4 linked regions of the Homo sapiens genome follow. The protein of the gene in region 2 purifies or fractionates together with the protein of the main gene of each other region. This does not show direct contact. Each region holds a gene or a part of one and is shown on either strand. Other genes may lie near its edges.

The links. The genes of interacting proteins can lie anywhere in the genome.
Region 1: the proteins of DIDO1 (region 2) and PCDHA2 fractionate together in Homo sapiens (co-fractionation; one large-scale study listed by BioGRID). This does not show direct contact.
Region 3: the proteins of DIDO1 (region 2) and SPTB purify together in Homo sapiens (affinity purification with mass spectrometry; one large-scale study listed by BioGRID and IntAct). This does not show direct contact.
Region 4: the proteins of DIDO1 (region 2) and RBMXL1 purify together in Homo sapiens (affinity purification with mass spectrometry; one large-scale study listed by BioGRID and IntAct). This does not show direct contact.

The regions. Positions count from the first base shown.
Region 1 is NC_000005.10:140,797,833-140,801,362, forward strand, and holds part of PCDHA2 (protocadherin alpha-2 isoform 1 precursor), read left to right. Parts: intron 1-3,224; exon of another isoform or gene 3,225-3,365; coding exon of another isoform or gene 3,366-3,530. Other genes in the region: PCDHA3 (protocadherin alpha-3 isoform 1 precursor), read left to right, coding at 3,366-3,530. UniProt on the Homo sapiens protein: Potential calcium-dependent cell-adhesion protein. May be involved in the establishment and maintenance of specific neuronal connections in the brain.
Region 2 is NC_000020.11:62,919,979-62,923,508, forward strand, and holds part of DIDO1 (death-inducer obliterator 1), read right to left. Parts: intron 1-3,530. UniProt on the Homo sapiens protein: Putative transcription factor, weakly pro-apoptotic when overexpressed. Tumor suppressor. Required for early embryonic stem cell development.
Region 3 is NC_000014.9:64,745,772-64,748,364, forward strand, and holds the end of SPTB (spectrin beta chain, erythrocytic), read right to left. Parts: 3' UTR 512-2,593; downstream 1-511.
Region 4 is NC_000001.11:88,986,119-88,989,648, forward strand, and holds part of RBMXL1 (RNA binding motif protein, X-linked-like-1), read right to left. Parts: intron 2,234-3,530; 5' UTR 2,233-2,233; coding exon of another isoform or gene 2,134-2,232; intron 1-2,133. Other genes in the region: KYAT3 (kynurenine--oxoglutarate transaminase 3), read right to left, coding at 2,134-2,232.

The DNA of each region.
Region 1 (3,530 bases), on a different chromosome or scaffold from region 2:
TTAATAAGCTACATTTTTTTTTTGTTTGTTTGTTTTTGTTGAGACAGTCTTGCTCTGTCACCTAGGCTGGAGTGCAGTGGTGTGATCTCAGCTCACTATAACCTCTGCCACCCGGGTTCAAGTGATTGTCTTGCCTCAGCCTCCTTAGTAACTGGGATTACAGGCGCCCACCACCACGCCCGGCTATTTTCTTTTTTAAATTTTTTATTTTTAGTAGAGACGGGGTTGGTCTCAACTAAATGTTGGCCAGGCTGGTCTCAAACTCCTGGCCTCAAGTGATCCACCCTCCTAGGCCTCCCAAAGTGCTGGGATTACAGGAGTGAGCCACTGCACCTGGTCTTTTTATTTGTATTTGAAAGCAGCCTGAGTGGATATTTTAACACCAGAATTTCCAAAAGTATGTAGCACAGGTTGTTACAACAAAATGACAGCACTTAGGAATAACTGCTAATCTTAAGTATGTTTTTTATAAGTAAAATAACCCATTATTTGGTATAAAGATTTCACACTGATAACATTTTTGAGTTATCAGGCAAAAATAGAGAGTATTGAGAAAAGAGACCCTCTCAATTTTGTTTAATTTGAAAATATTAACATTTAAAAATCACACTGGGGTTTTTCAGGTGGTGGGACTTTTTCTTCATTTAAGTGGAGACTACCCAGTCTTTATGTTAATGGTTGATAAATCATCCTTTCAGTATCATTATCATTAGGCCAATGTGTGCAGGCCTCCCACTGCAGAGATTGACTACTTTTTTCTGGCATCTAATTCTATGCGTGGGAATACATTTTCCATTAATGTGAGCTCACTCAATTTTACCTGGAAGCATCCATATTCCTAATGAAATTGGAATTTTTCCAAAAGATGAGGCCTGGTCTTGGATGACTACATTTTCACTTGAAACATTTATTTTGGGTAATTATAACACTGAACTCGACAAGTAAATGTTACACTTGGAAAGAACTTTTTTAGCTTTTCCAACCAAAGGCAGATGTATTGCAATAAAATAACTGTCTTAAACGGTCCTCTACTATTTAGTTCTTAGTTATTTGCTGTTTATTCTAAATATATGTGCATATTGATAAATCATAGAAATAACTTCCACTAGTGATCTTACCTTTAGCCATTTCATAGTTAGGTCAGAATATCCATTTCCAAGTAATACTTGACCACTATGTTTCTACCATAGGTAAATGATAAGCTTCTAAAATTATATTCACATATATCCAAATCTCCAGGAGTCACAATCTGTTGCTCTATAAGTTTTTTCAAAACATTCTTATTTACATTTTTTCTTGGTTGTCTAAGTGACATCTAGGTGGTAGTAGAAATTATTCACTGATACTTTATCTACAAAATGGCTCAATCTTCTAAACTCATAGTTCCTTTAATATTACCTTTATCTCTTAATAATCAGTATGGAGTCTACTCTGCTATAAATTCTCATGTGACATTCCATTTTGCAATTAGTATAACTCTTAAAGGTACTGAAAAGTGCAGTATTACAATAAGTTGTCAAAGGCATCTCATTACTATGAAGTCCATGAAGTTTAAAAATTTTAAATTTATCTCTTATTTTCAAACTAGCTACCATCTTTAAAAATTCAGCAAAGTGGTAACTGGAATATTAATAGCTATAATTATTTCTTAGGTCCATGCTTTTCAGAAATAATGCTTAAATGTTTACTTACTTCTTCATAATATAGCACAATATAATCATTTAGAAATTATGTAAGTTTGATATTAACAAATATCATTAACTTACATTTTTATTTATCTTGCTTGAAAAAGTTAATTCAAAATATTAATTTATTTATTCATGAAAACAACAATTGATAATTTATCCTATTCTAAATATGAATGATAAAATCTGAGTAAGTTGCAGTCCTGGCTTCCATTTCATGAATACACAGGAAACAAAAGCTGAAATGAAAACTTTTCCCCTAAATATTTAAATCACATGTTTGATTTCATTTTTAAATGGTCTGGGTATAAGCAAAAATTTGTACATTATTTTATTTCTCTAAATTTGACCTCTTTCCATAAATTTTCTTTGCCCCACTTCCAAATGCGGCGAGAATTCATGCTTCTCATTGAATTCACAGATATCTTTAGAATGTTTTATTGCTTAGTGTTAAATATGTTGAGTAAATACTGGCTTATGTTCCTAGGTTACTTTTCTCCCTTCACTGTTTAGTTAAATAATCAATTCTTTCAAGTAACAACTTTTAAAAAAACTGGAATCTAGAAATTCATCAGGAGTGGAGATCATCAAAAACGTAATTACTTTATATTGTTAACATTTTAGTATATACAGGTAAATTCAAATACATAAAGAGTGTGGAAAAATTAAACCTAATATATTCTTAATTGATGTGATGTGAGTGTAACAAATATACAAATCACATTCCCACAATAGGAAACAAATTTCCTGTTTGAATTTCTCTGTAAAGGACCGACTTCTGAAATCTTTATGTAAGTTACAGTCAAGACAGTTGATGAGGCTATAGTTCTTGAAAAAGGGGCATGGGAGGGAATTACAGACATTCTACAAATTTAAAAAACCATAAATGTACATATTTTAAGAAATTAACAGTTGCTGTAATAACATAAAAGTAGATATATGTATGTTTTAATATATACAGCACACACACACTTTTAAATACTTCAACATCTCAATGTTTTGATGATCATAAATCTGAAAGGATCTGATTTTTCTATAAAATGTAACTTGGGTGGTAAAGAGGTTAATGGTAAGTTGTCTTGAATCAGATTGAAATCCCATCGTACCAAGAGATAATATCGTTTTACTTAACCTCTATGTGTTTATAAAAAGCGAATAATATTAAAACTTATTTCAGAGGATTGTGATAATTTAACGGGATAATTCCATTAAGACAAATAGAAAAGTGGCTGTCACATGGGAAATATTTCCAATAGATGTCCACTGTTAAAACAGGAATCACAATATTTTAGTGTATGTCATGAATTAGCACAATTGATAGTGAATTAGTATAAAAGTTCTAAGGAAATATTTAGATAAAATATAAGGACTTTGAGGAGTGACCGAAGGATATTACAATTGAAACTAGAAATTTTGGGAAAGTTCAAACGACATACAAGGAAAAGAAGATACGTTTACATATTTAATACTTACACGTTTAGCCACATGATGTCGCTGTCCACCACAAGGTCTTTCTCCACAAAAGAAATAACAGCGTGCATTACGTATTCAGATACTGCTTTGCTTCATCCTCTCTAAAATTTAACACCGAGGAGTTTAAGAAATGAAGATAAGGAACTCGAATTATTTTTAAACTTTGGATCAATGTAAAGGCAATCTAATATTTGGAAAATACTTGCAATGTTGTTCTCCTGGCGAGAAGATCCTGGAGCCCAGTGCCTGCTGCTTTCTCTTCTGCTCCTCGCAGCCTCGGAGGTGGGGAGCGGCCAGCTCCACTACTCCGTCTCTGAGGAGGCCAAGCATGGCACCTTCGTGGGCCGCATCGCGCAGGACCTGGGGCTGGAG
Region 2 (3,530 bases):
CACTACCTTTGATGGACTCCTCTTGTCTCAGTAAAAAAGAAAGTATGGTTTCAAACACTTAAGATACGGTCCCAATTCTACATACCAGGATTCCTGTTGCTCTTAATAAAAGATTACCACTTGGGCCCTGGTGAGGACCACAATGCACAGGTTCTTATCCCCATGAAGAAATCCACCTCATGCCGCAAGTGTGGCAGTGTGAGCTCCCCGGGTACCATGTGAGTGGGGTGCGCTGCGGGAGGTCATCCCAGCAGGGTACTGTGGGGGCTGCTTCCCCTCAAGGGCATCTGTTTATTACAGGTTTAAATCACTGTTCCTTTATGTTCTCCTCGGTCCACACCCTTAGAGACCTGCATAATTCCATGGCCCCAAGCACAGCCTACTCTTGCCTCCCCCCAACCCCCGATTTTCACTGCTGCAAAGGATTCAGCAAGGGGCTGTGTAGGGCACTTTGAGGGAGAGGTGTGTACTGGAACAGCTTTACCGGTGACAGCGCATCAGATTGATTCCACACTTGCCCCAAGGGGCAAGCACATGGTTGAGCCACTAAAAATTGTTCAAAGACACAGCTTATCTTCCTAAAAGTAATCAATTTCCCCAAGTGTTTAGAGCTATTTTACAACTCTTAGAGAAGTGGTTCTCAAAGCGTGGTCCAGGGGTCCTTTTGGGAGGCCCCCGGATCAAAGCAGTCTGCACAACACCAACATTCCATGCTGTTTCCACAGCCACTCTGAGTATATGCTAGAGCATTTCAGAAGCTGAACGGAGACACTAAGTTTGAATTCGGAAGGAGAATCCAGAAGCTGTCAGTTAAGCCAAACAGATTTGTGAAAACAAAACCATCTTTCTCATTGTTTTCGTCATTGAAAACAGGTTCCACTAAATGGTTTACTTATGTTAATATATAATGGTTTACAATTTTACTTTATTTATTTGAGATGGAGTCTCGCTCTCACTTAGGCTGGAGTGGAGTGGCACGATCTCAGCTCACTGCAACCTCCGCCTCCTGGGTTCAAGGGATTCTCCTGCCTCAGCCTCCCGAGTAGCTGGGATTACAGGCGTGTGCCACCATGCCGAGTTATTTTTTTTGTGTCTTTAGTAGAGAAAGGGTTTCACCATGTTGGCCAGGCTGGTCTTGAACTCCTGACCTCAGGTGATCCGCCCACCTTGGCCTCCCAAAGTGCTAGGATTACAGGCATGAGCCACCGTGCCCGGCTGGTTTCCAATTTTAAATAGAAGGCACTTCAGCATTTAAATGACTCATTTTTAAATGTCAAACATGGTGACTATCAATAGATATAACAAAAGCTCTTTGGGGTCTTCCCTGCTTTTTAGGAGTGTAAAGCAGTCCTGGGTCCTGCCAGTCTGGTAACCGCTGACACAGCAGCGCCTTCCACTGCTGGAGCCTGAAAGGCTGCTCCCCGAGGCCATTCCGGTTCAGTCAGGATCCTAGTGGCAGTGACAGGTACTGCTTTAGCATTCACTTTTTCCAGACACCCTGTCTACTCTCATTCAGTTTCATGTGATTACTGACCAGGCAGGGATTGCCAAGTGAGATGATGGCCACCCTAAGTTCAGGTGGAGAGAATGGGGTTTCTTCTTTAAAAACCCTTCTCTCACAAGAATTTGCTTCTCAAATTGGAGCTGCAGCCAATTTTTTTTTTTTTTTTTTGGAGACAGGGTCTCTGTCGCCCAGGCTGGAGGGCAATGGAGCGACTGATCACGGCTCACTGCAGCCTCAATCTCCCTGGGCTCAGGTTATCCTTCTACCTCAGCCTCCTGAGTAACTGGGACTACAAGCATGCACTACAATGCCCAGCTATTGTGTGTGTGTGTATATCCACAATATATATATACTATATATATCCACTACATATACCCGCTATATATATATCCACAATATATATACACACTATATATATATCCACAATATATATACACTATATATGTCCAAAATATATATACACTATATATGTCCACAATATATATACACACTATACATATGTCCACAATATATATACACTATATATATATCCACACAATATATATCCACACGATATATATACACACAATATATATATACACACACTATATACACTATATACACACTATATATACACACTATATATATACACACACACACACACATATATACATATATACACACACACACACACAAACAATGCCCGGCTCTTTTATATGTATGTGTGTGTGTGTGTATATATATATGTACATATATATACACACACACACATATATATATATACACACACACACATATATATACACACACACACAGGTGTCTACCTGGCCTGTGTCTCCAGGGTCTTGGGAGCATCTCTGGGGCCTACTCCCCTCAGTGCAGGTTCAGCATTCCCAGTCCTGACAGCTGCAGCCAGCAGTGCCCACCCCCACCCAGACATTTATAACCAGGACAAGCCCTCAGTTAAGCAGATGGGGGGCTCACTCAAGGGGGAACCTGTCTATGAATGCAGGGTTCAACCCCAGCTGCAAACGATAGCGGGGGTGGGGGGGTACAGTGTACCAGGCAGTGTATCTGTCTAGGAACGCGGGGGCCACAGGGTATCAGGCAGTGCATCTAAGGCCTGCACTTTCCTGTCTGTGAAATGGGGACGGTAACGACCTCACAGCTTCCTACAAGGTTTTCTGAAGCGACATCCTGTGCCAAATCATCTGCGGCAAGTGTGCAACAGACGGTAGGTGCCACCTAAGAAAGTGACACAGCCTGTGCTGGCGAGGGCTTGGAGAGAAAGGCCCTCTTAGGCGAGTCTATTTGTCCGACATATTTGCCAACAGCCCTTTATGGGCTTGGCACAGGGAAGAGAGCGGGTGACATACTGTTCTCATGGAGGGCAGGGAGTGCTTCACGATGACCCAGGAGAAATTAAGTAGGAAGTACACACTAACTTATGAGTGTTTTTTTTCTCACAAAGGTGACAAACTGAACACAAACTAACAGACCAGTTTGAAAAATCAAGAAACATCTATATAGTGAAATTCTTTTTGTTGGGGGTGGGGGGTGGACAGAGTCTTGCTCTGTCACCCAGGCTGGAGAGCAGTAGCAGAACCACGGCTCACTACAGCCTGGAACTCCTGGCTTCAAGGGGTCCTCTGGCCTCTGGCCTCAGCCTCCCAAAGTGCTGGGACTACAGGAGCACATCAGCATGCTTGGCCTAATTATTATTATTTTTTTTTTGAGACAGAGTCTCACTGTCGCCCAGGCTGGAGTGCAGTGGTGCGGTCTCGGCTCACTGCAACCTCGACCTCCCAGGTTCAAGCGATTCTCCCACCTCGGCCTCCCAAGTAGCTGGGATTACAGGCACGTACCACCACACCCAGCTAATTTTTGTATTTTTAGTTAGAGATGGGGTTTCACCATATTGGCCAGGCTGGTCTTGAACTCCTGACAAGTGATCCACCCATCTTGGCCTCCCAAAGTGCTGGGATTCCAGGCACGACCCACCATGCCCGGCCGGGAATTCTTTAAGGGTGATGAATCATCACATGCA
Region 3 (2,593 bases), on a different chromosome or scaffold from region 2:
CCAGGAAGTTGTAGTTAACCCCTTCCCCAGGCAGTCCTTACACGGCCATCTAGGTATGCCTGGGAACCTTGCACCAGGTCGGTGGTTCTCACTGGCTGCCCATTGGAATTATCTGGGGAGCCTTCTGGAAACGCAGTGCTTACATTCCATCTCCCTAGACCAACAGAAACTGCCCTCTGGAGGTGAATCCCAGGCTTAGAGATTCTGATGATTCTGCGGTCCAGTGAGTGCTGAGATCTGTCCTGAGCTCTGTGGGGAGGGGCCTGGACTGATCACTGCTTGGAAATGATTTTGCCCTACAGTAGGCCTTCAAGTTGATCAAATGCATGAATGAGCAAGCTTTTCTTGGAGTTTGTGATGAAGCCCAGGAACCGGGTGCTTGCAGTCGTCCCATAAGGCTCCCAGGGACAAGCTAGAGAATCTGGCTGTCCCTCTGTCTCCATGGTGCCAGCCCTCTTAGGCTCAGTTCAAAGGGAGAGGAGGCTAGTTAAATAAGAAACTGAGAGAAACATGGAGCATTATTGATTTATTAGAAAAACTAGTAAATGGGTTTCCTCTGGTTGGTGGAAGCACGGTTGAGCAGGTGGAGGACAGGACCCAGCTGGCCCCAGGGCCAGCCCCAGATTGCATGGTCTGTGCCCAACAGGGTTGCATTCCTCTGCAGCCGCCGCCTCCTCATTTCCTCCCTGAGCTTGTTTGTCCAAGCCACCAAGCCATGTGGTCCCGCTGGCTTCATCCTCCTCTGGATTCCTGCCCCCCTCCCATGAAGGGAGGAAGAGGATTCAGGGTCAGCCTAGGGGACCCTGGCTCCCTCCGATAGGCAGGAAGGAGGAGGGATGCGGAGGAGAGGCTGAGCCTTCCACGGGCCTCCTGTTAGGGGTGTTGGTGGAGGCCAGGTTGGGGAGGGAAGCCTAAGGACCCTCCACACCTCCCACAGCCAGAGTCAGTTGAGGCTGGGACAAAGGGGAAGGAGAGAGGGAAGGAGGACCGCCTGACCTTGCCCAGAAGGAGCTTCCTCTAAACTGCCCTGGGAAGGAAGCCTGGTATGCTGGTGTGGACTGGAGCTGTGTCAACCTCGTTTGGGAATACTGTCAAAAGACTGTAGAGTAGAATAAGGAGAGAAAAAAAAAAAAAGACCTTGCTAGGGCACTGGGAGAGCTTAGCCCTGGTGTGGCACACACAGGGTCTCCCAAAGCTGGATGCCTGCATTTTCAGTCTAGTTGGTCGAATGTCTTGGAGCCTGGGTGACAGGAGGGATGTGTGGGGAGCTGGCAACAGAATGGTCACATGCAGCTGGCTGCCCTGGACCAGGCCAGGGGACCTGGGGTGGTGAGATGCTAGCTCTTCCACTAGAGCCCTTCCTTTCTCGGGTCTGTGGAGTTGCTTGCTGGAAATGCCTCACTTCAGGTGCTGATTTGGCACACGTGGAAGGGGGAGGGTGGGCCCTTGTCCCTAGGCTCCCTAAAGACTGGCCCAGGGAAACAGTTGAGGGAGATGTTTGCCACCATCTGCCCTTCAGCAAGGAACCTGCTCTCTGCCCCAGAGGAGGACATGCCTGCAAGTGCACCAAAGGCCTACTTTATTGCTAGGTGAGTGCAGTCACCTCACTGCCTTGGTTTCCCCAGATACAGAAAGAGGCTGGTGAGTGATACACACTAGGTTCCCTGTATAGGGTCATATGTACCAAAGCCAAATGAAGACCTTGCTCACCAGGGCGGGAACCTGGGGATGTCAGGCTCCATCGGATGACGTCTTCCTTCCTGTGGCTCCTGCCTGCTGCAGTTGGTGTCACCCTGACATATAGTGTCAGGGCCACAGGGTGGAACTGATTTCTGCCGGCACTGGTCAGCACTCAGGGTTCCTCAGGGGGCCTCATTCTGGATGCCTGCCCCTGTGGCTTCTACCTGAACCTCACCCACTTCATCTCCATGGAACTAAGGTCCTTCTCACGGGGAAGGTGATAGAAACTTGACTGCAGGCCCTGGGGACTTTCATGGTTTCCTTGGGGGAAAATGCCTGCTGCCCTCCGCCCTCCCCCCCACCCCCGACCCGCTTGACTGCTCTCTTGGACCTAACCCTAGTTTGATACTGGGCCAGAACTGTGTTGCTTTCGGAGTAGAGTGGTGGGGAAAATATGGAATGAGCTTTCTCTTCCTCCAGAAGTATGACCTGAGCAGCAAGGGGAAGGCCATTCCTGGGGACGTTGGTTGCAGAGCTTCTGGTGCTCAGGGCTGGAGGGTGGTAGATATTTGACCTCTGTACTCATGTGACCCCCTCCCCGCCAAGACCTGGGGCCAGGACGTGGAGAAGCTGATCAAGGGGTACCACACCTTCATGGCTCTGGCCCTGACATTTGTCCCAGTTGTGCAGGAGTAGCTGTCACATGGGTGGTGATACCAAGACATGGCTGCGTCTGCCACCCCGAGAAAACAGATGATCAACTTTACTGTCTGCCCAGCCATTACCCTCCAAAGTCCCAGCTGCAGACAGGATGCAATTGAGCATTTGGCTTTGGGATGCTTTACTGCAGGTGCGGGGGGTATCCATCTTATATCTGGGGGCCCACACTGTCCCGTAGGGGGCCTATGTCTGT
Region 4 (3,530 bases), on a different chromosome or scaffold from region 2:
TGCAGTGAGCCGAGATTGCGCCATTGCACTCCAGCCTGGGCGGCAAGAGTGAGAGACTGTATGAAAAAAAAAAAAGAGAGAGAGAGAGAGACAGAGAGAGTTGATTTCCTTAAGGAAGGACAGACCTAAGGAAAAGGTTTTGTCCAGTGTTGCTTTTGCGCTTCTCTGGTGGACATTTAAATTTTAGACTCTCTTAAAAAAAAAAAAATTAATAGACTATTTTAGGGCCAGGCGCGGTGGCTCACGCCTGTAATCCCAGCACTTTGGGAGGCCGAGGCAGGTGGATCACAAGGTCAGGAGATTGAGACCATCCTGGACTACAGGTGTGTGCCCAGCTAATGTTTTGTATGTTTAATAGAGATGAGGTTTTGCCATGTTGCCCAGGCTGGTCTTGAACTCCTGGTCTCAAGCGATCCACTGGCCTCAGCCTCCCAAAGTGCTGGGATTGCAGGTGTTAGCCACTGCGCCCCGCCTACATTTTTCCTTTAGCATTCAAAACATTCTTTAAAATTAGAGAATATGTAAAATGTTTTTGTAAAAAAGCAAGTAATACAGGAAAATACAGCCTATCCTTCATTCTATTCCCTTCCCGGCAGATTTTCATGACATTAAGGATGATGTGGATGAAACGAATATTCTAAGTAAGTTCACAGTAACTTATCTGGCTGGTTCTGACAAGTCTTTCTTGATTTAAACTTATCACTATTGCTTTTGTAACACTGGCCAGTGTTTTTCATTCGTCCAGCAATAGGAAGAATATTTATCTTTATCCCTGTGCGACTATTTTAAATGCAAAGCCTCTGATGAACTGTAGACACTTTTCCAATGTAGTTAAAATGATACAAACACTTTGGCAGTTACTTAATTAAACATAAAGCTACCACACAACCCAACCATTCCACTGCTAGGTATGGAGAGGGGTTAGTGCTATCCCAAATAGTCCACAAGTTTGAATAATGCATTGTCAGTGGTTTTTGCCTGGGACATACATCAGAATCAGCTGGAAAGATTTTTCAAAATACATTCCAGATATGTAGAATTAGAATGCATAATGGTGAGCCCTGGCATACGTAGTCTAATAAAAGTTCCACAAATGAGGATTGTGCACACAAATGCCCTTTTAGTGCCATGGTTTCATATGTTCACCTTGGGGAAGCACAACCACTTCCCTGGCTTCAACCGACTTCTATGTTGGGAGAGGGCCTGAAAAAGGTGGTCACGGTGGCATAAAGAGGAGAGAATTCAAGACAGTTATGAGGTAGAATTCATAAGATTTACATATAGAAGACACTGATGATGGTTTTTATGAAAATTTTAAACCACTGAGAAAATTTTAAACCAGTTGAGAGATTAGAATTAGGTTGAATACAAAATTGTCAATATTCAACCAGTTATGACAAAAATGGTACTTCATATGCCAAAAATGGAATTTTCATACAAAAATAGCAATTTCATATACTTTAACCTAATATAAAACACTCATATGCACACTACCCAGATTCAGTAATTCTCAAGATTTTGCCTCTTTTTTTCTGTAATTGCTGAGTAACTTTAGAATAAATCTTAGACCTTAGGTCATTACATCCCTACATACTTGGCATATTATCTAAAAAATATTGCTACTTATATAACTGCAATTTCATTACCACACCTCACCAACAATAATTTCTTGTTAACATCTAATACCCAGTCCACATTCGTATCTCTCTGATTGTCTTTAAAAAATGTCTTTCTGCATTTTGGTTGACTGAATCAAGTTCCTAAAGCAGATGTACGTATTGTATTTGGTGGTTATGGGTTTTAAACCTTTTTCGATCCCTGAGCAGTCCTCCTGAAATATCCTCTTCTACTTTTTTCCCATGCCACTGGACCTATATTCATAACTTGAAGGGTTTTGTGAAGACAAAATGAGGTAATGAATATATAATGACCAGCACATGGCCTGATCCACAGACAGGCAAGCAGTTGCTCAGTGAATGTCAATTCTAGTCAATGACAAGAGACACCTTCAGCATATGTAATAGAAATGTTCATTTCAATAAAGTATTTGTAAAAAAGCATCTGAAAAATTACATATTTTTTGGACAGTGCAGAATATGTACAATAATTTATCTGTAAGTAAGCAATACCTACAGCAGAAGTAGAGAATCCGAGGATTTTGGAAGAAGAAATTGTCTTCAGGAATTTTGCTCTACCGCTAAGAGAGCAGAGGCTCCTCTGGGCCAAAAACATGCTATTAAATAAAAGAAAAATTGAGAAGAGGAATAAATATATGATGGGTACATCACTATCAGACACTTACAGCTAGCTGATGTATCATAAGCTTACGTAAAATCCAAGTAAACATTTTTGATAAGTGAGTTTGCTTTCTTTCAAGTTTTCTTTCTATGATATAATCTCTCATCACTGGAGGCATTCTAATAAATGTATTCTTCCTACACAAATTTATATTCACATCATTTTAAACTAGAGAGCTTTAAGAATATTCTTAATTAAAAAAATAAGGCTTTAATTTAGTCAAGAGCATTAAATTTCAGAAAGTGAAAGTTCCATTTCTAGCAGCTATAAAATCCAGAGTATTTCAATCTAGGAACTACTCAAATTTCAGAATCCTCTGGATAACAGTCACTAGTAAAAGCATAGTTTGTAACAGTAAATTAAAGTTGTTAGAAACAGTTATTTAAAAAGTTGTTTGAAAAGACGAATGATAGTAGGTCCTTGATAAATATAAAGAATATATGAGTGAATCTTAGGTTATTCTGAAGGTACTTCCTCCAACAATTCCCACAAGCCATTTTAGTGGATTCCAGTGGCATGATAGGCATGCATTCTGAATTGCTTCTCTACCTGTAAGTATAAAATTGATATCCGTCATGGGTAAATGGAGGAAGATCAAGGCAATGAAACTATTACAATACTGCCACTTAGAAGTGGAAAGAAAACCCAGCTTTCTAAAAACATTCAGGCAAATAGATATTTCTCATAAGGTTTTACTCTGAGAATGTTGTTCTCTTAAGTCTACTGTATAAGGCTGCTGTATCAGTGGATGGCATGTCGTCTAACAGTTATCAAACCTTAGAGAAAAAGAGACCTAATCTATGGAAACTAAATAGAGCTTCTATATAAAACGCTAACAAATCAAACCCAGTAGTATACAAGAAGGATAATACATCATGACCAAGGGGGGTTGGGTTTATATAAGAAACCTATTAATGTGATTCACCACATTAAGAGATTAAAGCAGAATTCAATCTTAAAAAAAGTTTCTATCTGTAGTCAAGTTATGGACTCTTGCTGGGCCTCAGTTTCTCCATTTTTCACAATAGGTGAATAAATTAATAAGGTTTGAGTTAAAGCAAGCAAGTAGCGGGAACCCTCTAACGACATAAAGATACAATGGAATTTGCTGATTATGGCGCAGCTGTCCCAAAAGACACAGCTGAAACTTTGGAAAATGGAAGAGAAAGGAAGACCTGGGTCAGTTGCCAGGAATTACATTGCATGATGGAGGTAATGTGCTAATAATAAAA